Linked DNA regions of Homo sapiens. The protein of the gene in region 1 interacts with the protein of each later gene in a biochemical or structural test. Each region holds a gene or a part of one and is shown on either strand. Other genes may lie near its edges.

What was found. Proteins that work in one complex are often made in the same cells at the same time.
Region 2: the proteins of HELZ2 (region 1) and PPARA form a complex in vitro, tested with the Homo sapiens proteins (one study listed by BioGRID).

Annotation. Positions count from the first base shown.
Region 1 is NC_000020.11:63,557,579-63,564,259, reverse strand, and holds the end of HELZ2 (3'-5' exoribonuclease HELZ2), read left to right. Parts: coding exon 1-1,740; intron 1,741-1,877; coding exon 1,878-1,972; coding exon of another isoform or gene 1,973-2,056; coding exon 2,057-2,188; intron 2,189-2,275; coding exon 2,276-2,437; intron 2,438-2,514; coding exon 2,515-2,659; intron 2,660-2,793; coding exon 2,794-2,910; intron 2,911-2,985; coding exon 2,986-3,178; intron 3,179-3,330; coding exon 3,331-3,465; intron 3,466-3,562; coding exon 3,563-3,781; intron 3,782-3,932; coding exon 3,933-4,089; intron 4,090-4,164; coding exon 4,165-4,332; intron 4,333-4,889; coding exon 4,890-5,014; 3' UTR 5,015-6,174; downstream 6,175-6,681. UniProt on the Homo sapiens protein: Can degrade highly structured RNAs through its concerted ATP-dependent RNA helicase and 3' to 5' exoribonuclease activities. Shows a strong preference for pyrimidine over purine residues for its nuclease activity.
Region 2 is NC_000022.11:46,230,511-46,237,537, forward strand, and holds part of PPARA (peroxisome proliferator-activated receptor alpha), read left to right. Parts: intron 1-1,281; coding exon 1,282-1,729; intron 1,730-4,622; coding exon 4,623-4,870; 3' UTR 4,871-7,027. UniProt on the Homo sapiens protein: Ligand-activated transcription factor. Key regulator of lipid metabolism. Activated by the endogenous ligand 1-palmitoyl-2-oleoyl-sn-glycerol-3-phosphocholine (16:0/18:1-GPC). Activated by oleylethanolamide, a naturally occurring lipid that regulates satiety.

The DNA of each region.
Region 1 (6,681 bases):
CCACATCATGGTGAAGGAGTACATGATTCAGTTTAATAGGCTCGTGGCTGAGTTCCTGGTGGGCAGCGAGTGCACGCGGACGGTCACGCCTCTGCGGTGGCAGCCAGCACCCCGCAGCCAGCAGCTCAAGGCCCTGTGTGAGAAGCATGGGGACCGGGTGCCCCTGTCACTGCACCTCGGCCACCACCTGCACGGCGGCGGGGGCAGTCCCCCCGACACGCGGCTGCACCTCCTGGCCTCCCTCTGGAAGCAGGTCCAGTTTGCTGCCCGCACCCAGGACTACGAACAGATGGTGGACTTGGTCACCACGGACGACATGCACCCATTCCTGGCTCCTGCAGGCCGCGACCTCCGCAAGGCCCTGGAGCGCTCGGCGTTCGGCCGCTGCGCCCGGGGCCACCAGCAGCAGGGCGGCCACTACTCGCTGCAGGTGGACTGGTACACGTGGGCCACCTCGCCCATCCGCAGGTACCTGGACGTGGTGTTGCAGCGGCAGATCCTGCTGGCGCTGGGCCATGGGGGCTCTGCCTACTCTGCCAGGGACATCGATGGGCTCTGCCAGGCCTTCAGCCTCCAGCACGCACTTGCCCAGAGCTATCAGCGGCGGGCGCGCAGCCTGCACCTGGCCGTGCAGCTCAAGGCCCAGCCTCTGGACAAGCTGGGCTTCGTGGTGGACGTGGAGGCGGGCTCCCGCTGCTTCCGGCTGCTCTTCCCCAGCAACCGGGAGACGCTGCCTGACCCCTGCCCCGTCCCCTACGGCTCCCTGCAGCTGGCCGAGCACCCCCACGCCCTGGCAGGCCGGCCGGGCCTGCGGCTCCTGTGGCGGCGCCGTGTCTACTCAGCGCAGGGATCCAGCCCGCCCCTGCCACTGCCTGGCACTGTGCCGGACCCACACACCCTGGCCGTGGAGACGGCCCTGTGGAAGCAGCTGCTGGAGCTGGTGGAGCTGCAGCGCTGGCCGGAGGCGGCTGCTCTCATCCAGGAGAAGGGCGAGGCGTCCCAGCGGCGGGAGCTGGTGCAGGTGCAGCGGAGCCACTGTGGCCATTTCCTGGAGGTGGCCCGGGAGCTGGGCAGTGGGGACACCCTGCAGGTGCAGCTCGGCACCAGCCTGCAGCACGGCTTCCTGGTACCGAGCCCTCAGCTCTGGACGGTGGCACCGGGCTTCAGCCTCTGCCTGGAGCACGTGGAGCGGCCCGGAGACTGCTTCTCAGGCCGTGTGTACCGGGCCCCGAGGGACCGGTACCGCGACGTGGATGAGTACGCCTGCGTGTGGGAACCATTCTGCGCCCTGGAGTCGGCCACCGGCGCGGTTGCCGAGAATGACTCCGTCACACTTCAGCACCTGAGTGTCTCCTGGGAGGCGTCACGGACGCCGCAGGGGCAGCTGCAGGGCGCCTTCCGCCTGGAGGCCGCCTTCCTCGAGGAGAACTGTGCCGACATCAACTTCAGCTGCTGCTACCTCTGCATCCGGCTCGAGGGGCTGCCGGCTCCCACGGCCAGCCCACGCCCTGGGCCCAGCAGCCTCGGCCCTGGCCTGAATGTTGACCCCGGCACGTATACCTGGGTGGCCCACGGGCAGACGCAGGACTGGGACCAGGAGCGCCGGGCAGACCGGCAGGAGGCTCCCAGACGGGTGCACCTCTTCGTCCACCACATGGGCATGGAGAAGGTTCCGGAAGAGGTGCTGAGGCCGGGCACCCTGTTCACCGTTGAGCTGCTGCCCAAGCAGCTTCCTGATCTGTGAGTGGCTTCCACCAGCAGAGGCTGGGCTGGGGGACCGCCCCGGGCCCCTCACTTGCAGGAGGGGGGAGCTCGTGGGGCAGCAGCCCCTTTCCTGGGAGTCCTGTTGGTTTTCCAGTGTCTGCCTTCACCCCCAGCCGCAAGGAGGAAGCCGTGCGTGGACTAGAGGAGGCGTCCCCGCTGGTCACCAGCATCGCACTGGGCCGGCCTGTCCCGCAGCCCCTCTGCAGAGGTAGGTCTGCCCCACCCCTCCAGCTTCCCCTCTGGCCCCCAGCCCCACCCTGCATGAGTGCTCAGGGAGGCTGCCCCCTCTCAGTGATCCCCAGCAGGTTCCTGGAGCGGCAGACCTACAACATCCCCGGAGGCCGCCACAAGCTGAACCCCAGCCAGAACGTGGCGGTCAGGGAGGCTCTGGAGAAGCCTTTCACGGTCATTCAGGGCCCACCAGGTAGGGCCCATGCCGGGGGAGCCGCAGGCTGCCTTGGGCCACAGGGACCCACAGGGTGGGCTACAATCTCCTATTCTCTGGCTGCAGGTACAGGGAAGACGATCGTGGGCCTCCACATCGTATTCTGGTTTCATAAATCAAACCAGGAGCAGGTGCAGCCCGGAGGCCCCCCCCGTGGGGAGAAGCGGCTGGGGGGTCCCTGCATCTTGTACTGCGGCCCCTCCAACAAGTCGGTGGATGTCCTGGCAGGTGCGCCGGGGTCGGCGGTGGGGGCCTTTGGGGAGCTGGCACGCGGGGCAGGACTCACGTCCCCCAACTACCCTCAGGACTGCTCCTGAGAAGGATGGAGCTGAAGCCCCTCCGTGTGTACAGTGAGCAGGCTGAGGCCAGCGAGTTCCCAGTGCCGCGTGTGGGCAGCAGGAAGCTGCTCAGGAAGAGCCCCCGGGAGGGGAGGCCGAACCAGAGCCTCAGGTGTGCCTGCTGTCTTTGGGGCTTGGGCGGAGTGGGGCCGAGCTGTCCAGACAGTCCTGTGTAGGTGGGTCTCACTGAGCTCTGCCCCCGTGATGGCCCTGCGTGGACAGGGCTCACTGTGTCCTGTCCCCCAGGAGCATCACCCTGCACCACCGGATCCGGCAGGCCCCCAACCCTTACTCGTCGGAAATCAAGGCCTTTGACACCCGGCTGCAGAGAGGGGAGCTCTTCTCCAGGGAGGACCTGGTCTGGTAAGTGGCAGGGGCCAGGGGGTGGAGCTGCCTGCAGCATGGGGGCCCTGGGGTGACAAGCAGTGTCCCCGGCAGGTACAAGAAGGTCTTGTGGGAGGCTCGGAAGTTCGAGCTGGACCGGCATGAGGTCATCCTCTGCACCTGCTCCTGTGCAGCCTCTGCCAGCCTCAAAATCCTGGACGTGAGGCAGATCCTTGTTGACGAGGCAGGCATGGCCACGGAACCTGAAACCCTCATCCCCCTGGTGCAGTTCCCACAGGCCGAGAAGGTTGGTCGGCGGGGGGTGTGGGCAGCATGAGCAGGCGTCCCTGGCACAGTCTCCCACCTGGGGTGCCCTGTGTGTGCAGACGCGGGTGTCGTGTGGGGCTGGGGTCCCTCTGGGTCTAGGGGTGTCAGGGCCAGGCCTGCCTATTCCTCCAGGTGGTTCTTCTCGGAGACCACAAGCAGCTGCGGCCTGTGGTCAAGAATGAGCGGCTGCAAAACCTGGGTCTGGACCGGTCTCTGTTCGAGCGGTACCACGAGGACGCACATATGCTGGACACTCAGTACCGCATGGTGAGCCCGCCCCACTCAGCCCCCAGCCCACCTGCAGCCCCTGGGGGGCCACAACCCCGCGTGGCAGCCTCTGACCAGCGCACATCCTTGCCTGCAGCATGAGGGCATCTGTGCCTTCCCCTCTGTGGCGTTCTACAAGAGCAAGCTGAAGACGTGGCAGGGCCTGAGGAGGCCGCCCAGTGTCCTGGGCCACGCTGGCAAGGAGAGCTGCCCTGTCATCTTTGGCCACGTGCAGGGCCACGAGCGGAGCCTGCTGGTGTCCACGGACGAAGGGAATGAGAACTCCAAGGCCAACCTGGAGGAGGTGGCTGAGGTGGTGAGTGTCTGGTGCCTGTGAGTCAGGGAGGGCTTTCTGGAGGAGGTGGCTGAGGTGGTGAGTGTCTGGTGCTTGTGAGTCAGGGAGGGCTTCCTGGAGGAGGGCAGGAGAGACACCAGGGTCCGCTCCACCTGCCCCCTCGGCTCCTCAGGTCCGTATCACCAAGCAGCTGACCCTGGGGAGGACCGTAGAGCCCCAGGACATCGCCGTCCTCACGCCCTACAACGCGCAGGCCTCTGAGATCAGCAAGGCCCTTCGGCGAGAGGGCATCGCCGGGGTGGCCGTGTCCTCCATCACCAAGAGCCAGGGTGAGGCTGGGGGCTCGTGGGTGGGGCCGGGAGGGTGGGCGCAGCGGCAGCAGGGCCTCACCTCCCATCCCGCAGGGAGCGAGTGGCGCTATGTGCTGGTGAGCACCGTCCGCACCTGTGCCAAGAGCGACCTGGACCAGCGGCCCACCAAGAGCTGGCTCAAGAAGTTTCTGGGCTTCGTTGTGGACCCCAACCAAGTGAATGTGGCTGTCACGCGGGCCCAGGAGGGGCTCTGCCTGATCGGTGAGGGCGGGGCTGGGCTCTTCCAGGGTGGGAACACAGGTGAGGCCAGGGCTGGGCTAGGGAGCTGCCGACTCCTGCCTGACCCTGACTCCGACCTGACCCTGACTCCTCCCACCTGACCCTGACTCCTCCCACCTGACTCTGACTGACTCCCATCTGACCCTGACTCCTCCCACCTGACCCTGACTCCTCCCACCTGACCCTGACTGACTCCCACCTGACCCTGACTCCTCCCACCTGACCCTGACTCCGACCTGACCCTGACTCCTCCCACCTGACCCTGACTCCTCCCACCTGACTCTGACTGACTCCCATCTGACCCTGACTCCTCCCACCTGACCCTGACTCCTCCCACCTGACCCTGACTCCTCCCACCTGACCCTGACTCCTCCCACCTGACTCTGACTGACTCCCATCTGACCCTGACTCCTCCCACCTGACCCTGACTCCTCCCACCTGACCCTGACTGACTCCCACCTGACCCTGACTCCTCCCACCTGACCCTGACTCCTCCCACCTGACCCTGACTGACTCCCATCTGACTCCCACCCTCACAGGAGACCACCTCCTTCTGCGCTGCTGCCCCCTCTGGCGTAGCCTCCTGGACTTCTGCGAGGCTCAGCAGACCCTCGTGCCTGCCGGCCAGGTGCGCGTCTGCAGGAGGCCAACTATGCCTTCCTGAAGAGCCCTCTCCACCTGCAAGGTGCCAGGACTGGGAGGGAAAGTCCAGGGCCCCCCCACCCTCCCCACCACCCTCCGCCATCAGCCTGCCTGGGCCAGCCTGCCTCCTGGCCTCAGGATCTCCCTGGGGCAGGAAGTGGGTGGACTTGGAGGAGGAACGGCAAGGGCCGGTCCCCACACTCTTGCTCCTCCTGGGCATCTGGGGACAGGAACACCTCTCAGGGTGGCCAAGAGGGGCTTCCTTGGGACCAGTGCAAGGAAGTTCTGCTGTCCCTGGGAAGTCTCAGAACCAGGAAGGAAACCCTGTGGAGGCTGCCCTTTGACCTTTGGACGCCACCTGTAATCACTCTGGATGGTGTCTGTGGAGTTCAGGTTTATTTTCTATTTAAATGAACTAAAAGCCAGCATCCTGCCGGGCGTGGTGGCTCACGCCCATAATCCAGCACTTTGGGAAGCCGAGGCGGGCAGATCACCTGAGGTCAGGAGTTCGAGACCATCCTGGCCAACATGGTGAAACCCCGTCTCCACTAAAAATACAAAATTAGCTGGGCGTGGTGGCGGGCGCCTGTAATCCCAGCTACTTGGGAGGCTGAGGCAGGAGAATCGCTTGACTCCAGGAGGCGCAGGCTGCAGTGAGCTCTGATGGTACCACTGCACTCCAGCCTGGGTGACAGAGCGAGACCCTGTCTTAAAAAAAAAAACAAAACAAAACCAGCATCTGTTACTGGAACAGAGACCTCAGCCCAAGCTCAGGACAAGGAGGCCTCCCTGGGAGAGGGGGCCTTTCTCCCACCATCACCGCCTGTGTCCTTCAGGGGCTGCTGGAGGGCAGCCCAAAGCCAGGGGCCCACCCCGCCCCACCCCACCCCACCCCACCCTCTGAAATGTGAAAAGCCTGCACTCTTCCTGTGGGCTGCGCAGTGGGCTCGGGGGTTGGGGGGTGCCGGGGCGATGCTTCCACCCTGGACTGAGTGTTCGGGGCAGCCTGCTCGGCTGTATGTTTCTCGCACGCTCACCCGCTTCAGTGCGGCTCTGTCCCTGCTGCCGCCTCCAGTCCTGAGGGAGGGGCTTGCCCCACCTTCTACATTCCAATTTTTATATCTTTGAATTATGTGATTAGATATTAATTTAATGATAAAACCACTCTGAAAGCTCTTCTCACTTCTGGGTGTTTGAGGTCTGGCTGGGGGGCAAAAGTGGATGGTCACTGTGCTTGGTACGCAGTTGTGGAGGCTGTCGAGGGCCTACTGCAGAGCGCTGGGCGCAGGGGCGTGGGGAGGGCGGTTTTGGGACGCGGCCGTGGAGGCCGTCGAGGGCCCACTGCAGAGCGCTGGGCGCAGGGGCGTGGGGAGGGCGGTTTTGGGACGCGGCCGTGGAGGCCGTCGAGGGCCCACTGCAGAGCGCTGGGCGCAGGAGCGTGGGGAGGGCAGCGACCCCCCCTGCAGGGCCGGTGTCTCCGGCTGCCTGTGTGGGGAGGGGAGGGCCGTGCCTGGTGTGGTGGGGACAAGCCACAGCTCCAGAGCTGCTCCGGTGTCACCAGGCTGGCCAAGTCCAAAGTCCCTGAGGCCACCAGCCTTGACTGTCCTGCTGGTCCCACTTTTAAAGCTGCTCCCCAGGACCCCCTGGCCGCTGTGGACTGGGGTCCCTCCGCACCTGGCCCATTTGTGG
Region 2 (7,027 bases), on another chromosome or scaffold:
AGCAGTGTTTGTGCTCATTTTCCCCGGCTCTCCCACACATGTAATCCCTTCTGAGCATGTTGGCTTCAAATAATATGGCCAGCCACCTCTTCCACCACGAGATCTTCAGGAAATGGCAGGCCACTGGGTTTACATGCAGATGGCATGGGAGCACACAAGGCACGGCTGTGGGGAGTTGGCACTTGCTCCAGAATATGGAGCACCGAGTGAAGGTTTCAGTTTCCTGCACTGAGAGAAACAAGGGCATTCCGAGGCTTTTCCACTTTATCCCTAAAGAGTTTCACAACGCTTGTTTGCCGATTTCTACATAGATGCCACCTTTCTGAGTTGTATGTATTTACATGCCAAATGTATTCATTGAGCAGCGTTAAATAATGGTGTTCACCCCTAAAGTGCATATACTGGTAAAATTAAGAATGATCGTAATTAAGCCTCTTGCAATAGTCATTAGTTCAGAGAATATTTAAGAATATTAAAGGTGCTTTGCTAATGTCCTCGTTAGTTTTGTTTTGACAAAATCAGTACTTCAGTTTCTTGTTTCTTTTTTTTTTGAGACGGAGTCTTACTCTCGCTCTGTCGCCCAGACTGGAGACTGGAGTGCAGTGGCACGATCTTGGCTCACTGCAACGTCCACCTCCCAGGTTCAAGCGATTCTCCTGCCTCAGCCTCCCGAGTAGCTGGGGTTACAGGCACACACTATGCCTGGCTAATTTTTTTTTTTTTTTTGAGACGGAGTCTCGCTCTGTCACCCAGGCTGGAGTGCAGTGGCGCAATGTCGGCTCACTGCAAGCTCTGCCTCCTGGGTTCACGCCATTCTCCTGCCTCAGCCTCCCGAGTAGCTGGGACTACAGGCGCCCGCCACCACACCCAGCTAATTTTTTTGTATTTTTAGTAGAGACGGGGTTTCACCATGCTGGCCAGGCTGGTCTCGAACTCTTGACCTCAGGTAAACCACCCACCTCAGCCTCCCAAAGTTCTGGGATTACAGGCGTGAGCCACCATGCCCAGCCCAGTACTTCAGTTTCTTAGCGATGAAATCCACCCAATGTCAGGCGATGACTATTATTATTTTACTGATTTATACTGTTTGTTCTCTATTAATGTCTTATTTTCCCCAACCGATTTTGAAGTTGAGTAAGGACTATGTTCCGCGGGTATCTTGAGTCCTCTGAGGCACTGAGCTTGGTGATTTGGACGCAGGAGCTGCTCATTAGTGAGCTGATAGCTGGGAGCATAGCGCATCCCACATCACCTGACTTACCTTGGTGTCCTCCTTTGTAGCCTTTTGTCATACATGATATGGAGACACTGTGTATGGCTGAGAAGACGCTGGTGGCCAAGCTGGTGGCCAATGGCATCCAGAACAAGGAGGCGGAGGTCCGCATCTTTCACTGCTGCCAGTGCACGTCAGTGGAGACCGTCACGGAGCTCACGGAATTCGCCAAGGCCATCCCAGGCTTCGCAAACTTGGACCTGAACGATCAAGTGACATTGCTAAAATACGGAGTTTATGAGGCCATATTCGCCATGCTGTCTTCTGTGATGAACAAAGACGGGATGCTGGTAGCGTATGGAAATGGGTTTATAACTCGTGAATTCCTAAAAAGCCTAAGGAAACCGTTCTGTGATATCATGGAACCCAAGTTTGATTTTGCCATGAAGTTCAATGCACTGGAACTGGATGACAGTGATATCTCCCTTTTTGTGGCTGCTATCATTTGCTGTGGAGGTGAGTGGTTGATTTAATCTGCTGGTATCATGTCACTGACAGGCTCCTGTCTTGAAAAATTTGACAATGGGAAATCCAGTACCAGCCTGAGCTGTTCCAGTGGAGGGGACACTCACATGGTGGGAAGACGTCTGACCCCCAGTCACTGCTGAGAATTCAGTGGGAATTATAACAATATTGTATAATATTATAGTATATATTGTTATTATCTATAAATACATATTTAATATTATGTAAATGTATGACATTTTAATCATAATATTAGCCAGGTGTGGGGGTGCACACCTTTAGTCCCAGCTACTTACTCAGTAGACTGAGGCAAAAGGATCTCTTGAGCCCAGGAGTTCAGGTTGCAATGAGTTATGAATGCACCACTGCACTCTAGCCTGGGCAACAGAACAAGACCTATTTCTTTAAAAAAAAATTATATATTTTGCACAAATATATATATAGAGAAAAAGAGGTCGGACATGGGCCTGTAATCCCAGCCCTTTGGGAGGCTGAGGTGGGTGGATCACTTGAGCCCAGGAGGTTGAGACCAGCCTGGGCAACATGGCAAGACCCCGTCTCTACAAAAAAAAAAATAGAAAAAATTAGTCAAGTATGGTGGCATGTACCTGTAGTCCCAGCTACTTGAGAGGCTGAGGTGGGAGGATCACTTAAGCCCAGGAGACAAAGGTTGCAGTGAGCCAAGGTCACGCCACCACACTCCAGCCTGGGCGACGAAGAATGACCCTGTCTCAAAAAAAAAAAAAAAAAAAATTATACACACACACACACACACACATTTCGTTTATATTATATCTAATATTATAAACAGATATAATTTATATATTATGATATTCCTGTATATATTATATAATGATGTTGTATTCATATTATAGACAATATTGTATGAAGTGCTATACAGATGTCAGTATAGTTGCTGTCACAGTTGGTTATGTTGATGAAAAGTATATTTCCTAATGCAAAATATAATATCAGTCAGCAGCCAAGTGGCAGTGACTGCAAGGTTTGCTTTGCCCGAGGAAGCAGATCCCAGGGAAGGCCGATCTGGTCCTCTCTGTGGAAGCTGGCTCTGCAGCCTCCACATTTTTGGCTCGGTGTCACGTTCCTTTAAATAGCCCCATCTCAGGTCTAGGAAGGTCATCCACCTACTGCAAACTCGGCTGACCTTACCCAGGGTTGGTGGAGACAGATGGGGTCTCCCACACTGCCTGCAGCCATACTGCGCCTGGGGGATTGACTCACTGTCAGCATGGAGCTGACTCAGCCCTACCAGCCGTGCCCGTTACTGTGTGGCTGGGCACAAGTCAGATGAAGGAAGTCCTTGCGCTCTGGCATAAAGTGTACAAAGACAAAGCAGTTATGCATAATTTGTCCTTTAGTATGGTCAGGATGTAGCATTGTGGGTAAAATGCAGTTGCAGAACTATTTATATGTAGCATGATCACAGTTTTATAAAGGAAATTATAATCCTATATCAATCCTATGTATATAGAAAAATGTCCAGTGAGATATATGTTAAACCTATTATGGTGGGATTAAAATTATGAGGGGGGATTTCTATTTTTCAAAAGATTCCTCCTTTTTTTTTTTTTTGAGACAGAGTCTCCGTCTGTCACCCTGGCTGGAGTGCAGTGGCACGATCTCAGGTCACTGCAACTTCCGCCTCCTGGGTTCAAGTGATTCGCCTGCCTCAGCCTCCTGAGTAGCTGAGATTACAGGAACATGCCAGCACACCTGGCTAATTTTTGTATTTTTAGTAAAGATGGGGTTTCACCATATTGGCCAGGCTGGTCTCAAACTCCTGACCCCGGGTGACCCACCCACCTCGGCCTCCCAAAGTGCTGGGATTACAGGCATGAGCCACTGCACCCGGCAATAATTCCTCTCTTTAGAGACTTAATAGTTATAGCCCCAGCCACTCTGGAGGCCGAGGCAGGAGGATTGCTTGAGCCTAGGAGTTCCAGTCCAGCCTAAGCAACAGAGCAAGACCCCATCACTAAAACAATACAAAAACAAGAATTTTAGAAATAAAAACTTAATAATTACATTTACAACCAAAAACAATGAAGATGTTTAAATCCTCATCACTAGCAACCCTGTTAAGAATCATAGTAATGACTGGGTCTGTAAGGGAGCACCGCCTGCTGAACATGGCTCAGGGCAGTATTTTCTGGACCAAGAATCAGGTCTCATGCTTTGAGACTGTCCCAGGATGTCTAGTGCCAGCTACCCCAGGCAGGTCATCTGGTGTGAATGTTGACTCTTCCTGCACCAAGTCTCAGACCTGCCCCACCCTCCTCCCCACTCTGGGTCTCCTGATCTTGGCTCACTGCAATCTCCGTCTCCCAGGTTCAAGCGATTCTCCCACCTCAGCCTCCCGAGTATCTGGGATTACAGGCGTGAGCCACCGTGCCTGGCCTACAAAACCTAGTTCTAACACAATCACTCCTTAAATATGGTGGAACACTTGAAGCTTGATATCTAGTTTGGATTCAAAAGCTTCATTTCCCATATTATGCAAAACTGGTGGTTGTGATCTCCAGAATGTACTGTTCCTCCTACTAGCTCTAATTTTTCTCCCTGACAGGTGGTCATCAGGTAAATCACAAGTGAAAAGGCCGCACCATAAGGTGTACTTAGGGCACTATTGCCGCCTAGTAGTATGAATATTTAGGAAAGAGTACTGGTCCTGTCTGTCCCTACTTCACCTATTGACTTTGGAAAAACCTATGTCTATCTTCCAGTCAAGTTGACAATATCTAAAGGCAGCTCAGTTTTTTTCTAAGAAAGGCCACATAAAATAGGCATGTTTGGTTCCTGAAACTGATAAGCAGTTCTTGGGTGATTATCACACTCAAACCTCTCTCTCTTCTTTCGAGACTAGATCGTCCTGGCCTTCTAAACGTAGGACACATTGAAAAAATGCAGGAGGGTATTGTACATGTGCTCAGACTCCACCTGCAGAGCAACCACCCGGACGATATCTTTCTCTTCCCAAAACTTCTTCAAAAAATGGCAGACCTCCGGCAGCTGGTGACGGAGCATGCGCAGCTGGTGCAGATCATCAAGAAGACGGAGTCGGATGCTGCGCTGCACCCGCTACTGCAGGAGATCTACAGGGACATGTACTGAGTTCCTTCAGATCAGCCACACCTTTTCCAGGAGTTCTGAAGCTGACAGCACTACAAAGGAGACGGGGGAGCAGCACGATTTTGCACAAATATCCACCACTTTAACCTTAGAGCTTGGACAGTCTGAGCTGTAGGTAACCGGCATATTATTCCATATCTTTGTTTTAACCAGTACTTCTAAGAGCATAGAACTCAAATGCTGGGGGTAGGTGGCTAATCTCAGGACTGGGAAGATTACGGCGAATTATGCTCAATGGTCTGATTTTAACTCACCCGATGTTAATCAATGCACATTGCTTTAGATCACATTCGTGATTTACCATTTAATTAACTGGTAACCTCAAAATTCGTGGCCTGTCTTCCCATTCACCCCGCTTTTGACTATTGTGCTCCTTTATAATTCTGAAAACTAATCAGCACTTTTTAACAATGTTTATAATCCTATAAGTCTAGATGTATCCAAAGGTGAAGTATGTAAAAAGCAGCAAAATATTTATTTCAAAGACTTCACTTCTGTTTCCTGAATCTAAAGAAAGACAACATGCTGCTTTTTAATCATAGGATGGAGAATTTTAAAGAACTGTTTGGGCCAGGCACAGTCGCTCATACTTGTAATCCCAGCACTTTGGGAGGCCGAGGCGGGTGGATCACAAGGTCAGCAGATCGAGACCATCCTGGCCAACATGGTGAAACCCTGTCTCTACTAAAAATACAAAAATTAGCCGGGTGTGGTGGCACATGCCTGTAATCCCAGCTACTCGGGAAGCTGAGGCAGGAGAATTGCTTGAACCAGGGAGTTGGAGGTTGCAGTGAGCTAAGACTGCACCACTGCACTCCAGCCTGGTGACAGAACGAGACTCTGTCTTAAAAACAAACAAACAAAAAAAAAATCTGTTAGATAAGCTATCAAAATGCAGCTGTTGTTTTGTTTTTGGCTCACTGTTTTCGTGGTTGTAACTAATATGTGGAAAGGCCCATTTCCAGGTTTGCGTAGAAGAGCCCAGAAAACAGAGTCTCAAGACCCCCGCTCTGGACTGTCATAAGCTAGCACCCGTGGTAAGCGGGACGAGACAAGCTCCCGAAGCCCGCCAGCTTCCTGCTCCACTCAGCTCCGTCCAGTCAACCTGAACCCACCCAGTCCAGCTGTCTGTGGGAATGGTGGTGTTCTTAGGGACAGACTGACACCTTACTTGTCAGTGTTCCTCCGGGCCCCATTTGGCAGCTCCCGTATCTTTTGTTATGTTGCTTTTAAAGATATGATGTTTTATTGTTTTAACTCTTGGTGACAGTAGATGCTCTCTGGAGCGCAGACGAGGCACATGTGTCTTCATAGCCTGGGCTGGGTGGGAGCCAGTCACCCTGCGGATCGAGAGAGGGGGTAGAGTCTTCTTCAAATGGCAGTTTTACTTCAAATGGCAGATTTCACAAGAGTTGGTTATTTTTTACAATGGTTTAGGTTGTTAAGTCTCCTTTGTATGTAAGGTAGTTTTTTCAACATCTAAAATTTTTGTTTTAGCCTTCAAAACCAACTTACCAACCTCAGTCCAGCTGGGAAGGCAGCGTTGATTATGGTAGTTTGTCAAGAATATATGGACCTGGAAACACTTTCTCTCTCTGTCCACCTGGTAGATAAATTGTCCTGTTGAGAATTTTTAGATCTGGACTGGAACTGCCAGGACCACCGCCTCCAGGGAGTCGCTGGGCACCTGGAGGTATCGTCGATGCCTCTCCCCCATCTTTAGAAAATTTGGCTCTTCTGAGGTCATTATTATTTTAAGAATGATTAGGATTGATAAGGGTCCCATGACCAGCATTATGAAAATGCGAGAGTGGGAAGGACACAGTGTGAGACTTCCACTAGAAAAAAGTGAAAGTTAGGGTTAGGACATCCTTTTTTAAAAATTACAAATTTAGTCCGTTTTGGTTTTTGTAATCAGGCTAGGCACAGTGGCTCACACATGGAATCCCAGCACTTTGGGAGGCCGAGGTGGGAGGATCACTTGAGCCCAGGAGTTCGAGACCAGCCTAGGCAACATAGCAAGACCCTGTCTGTACACAAAATTTAAAAATTAGTTCATCGGGGTGGCACACATCAGTAGTCCCAGCTACTCTGCAGGCTGAGGTGGGAGGATTGCTTGAACCCAGGAGGTCGAGGCTG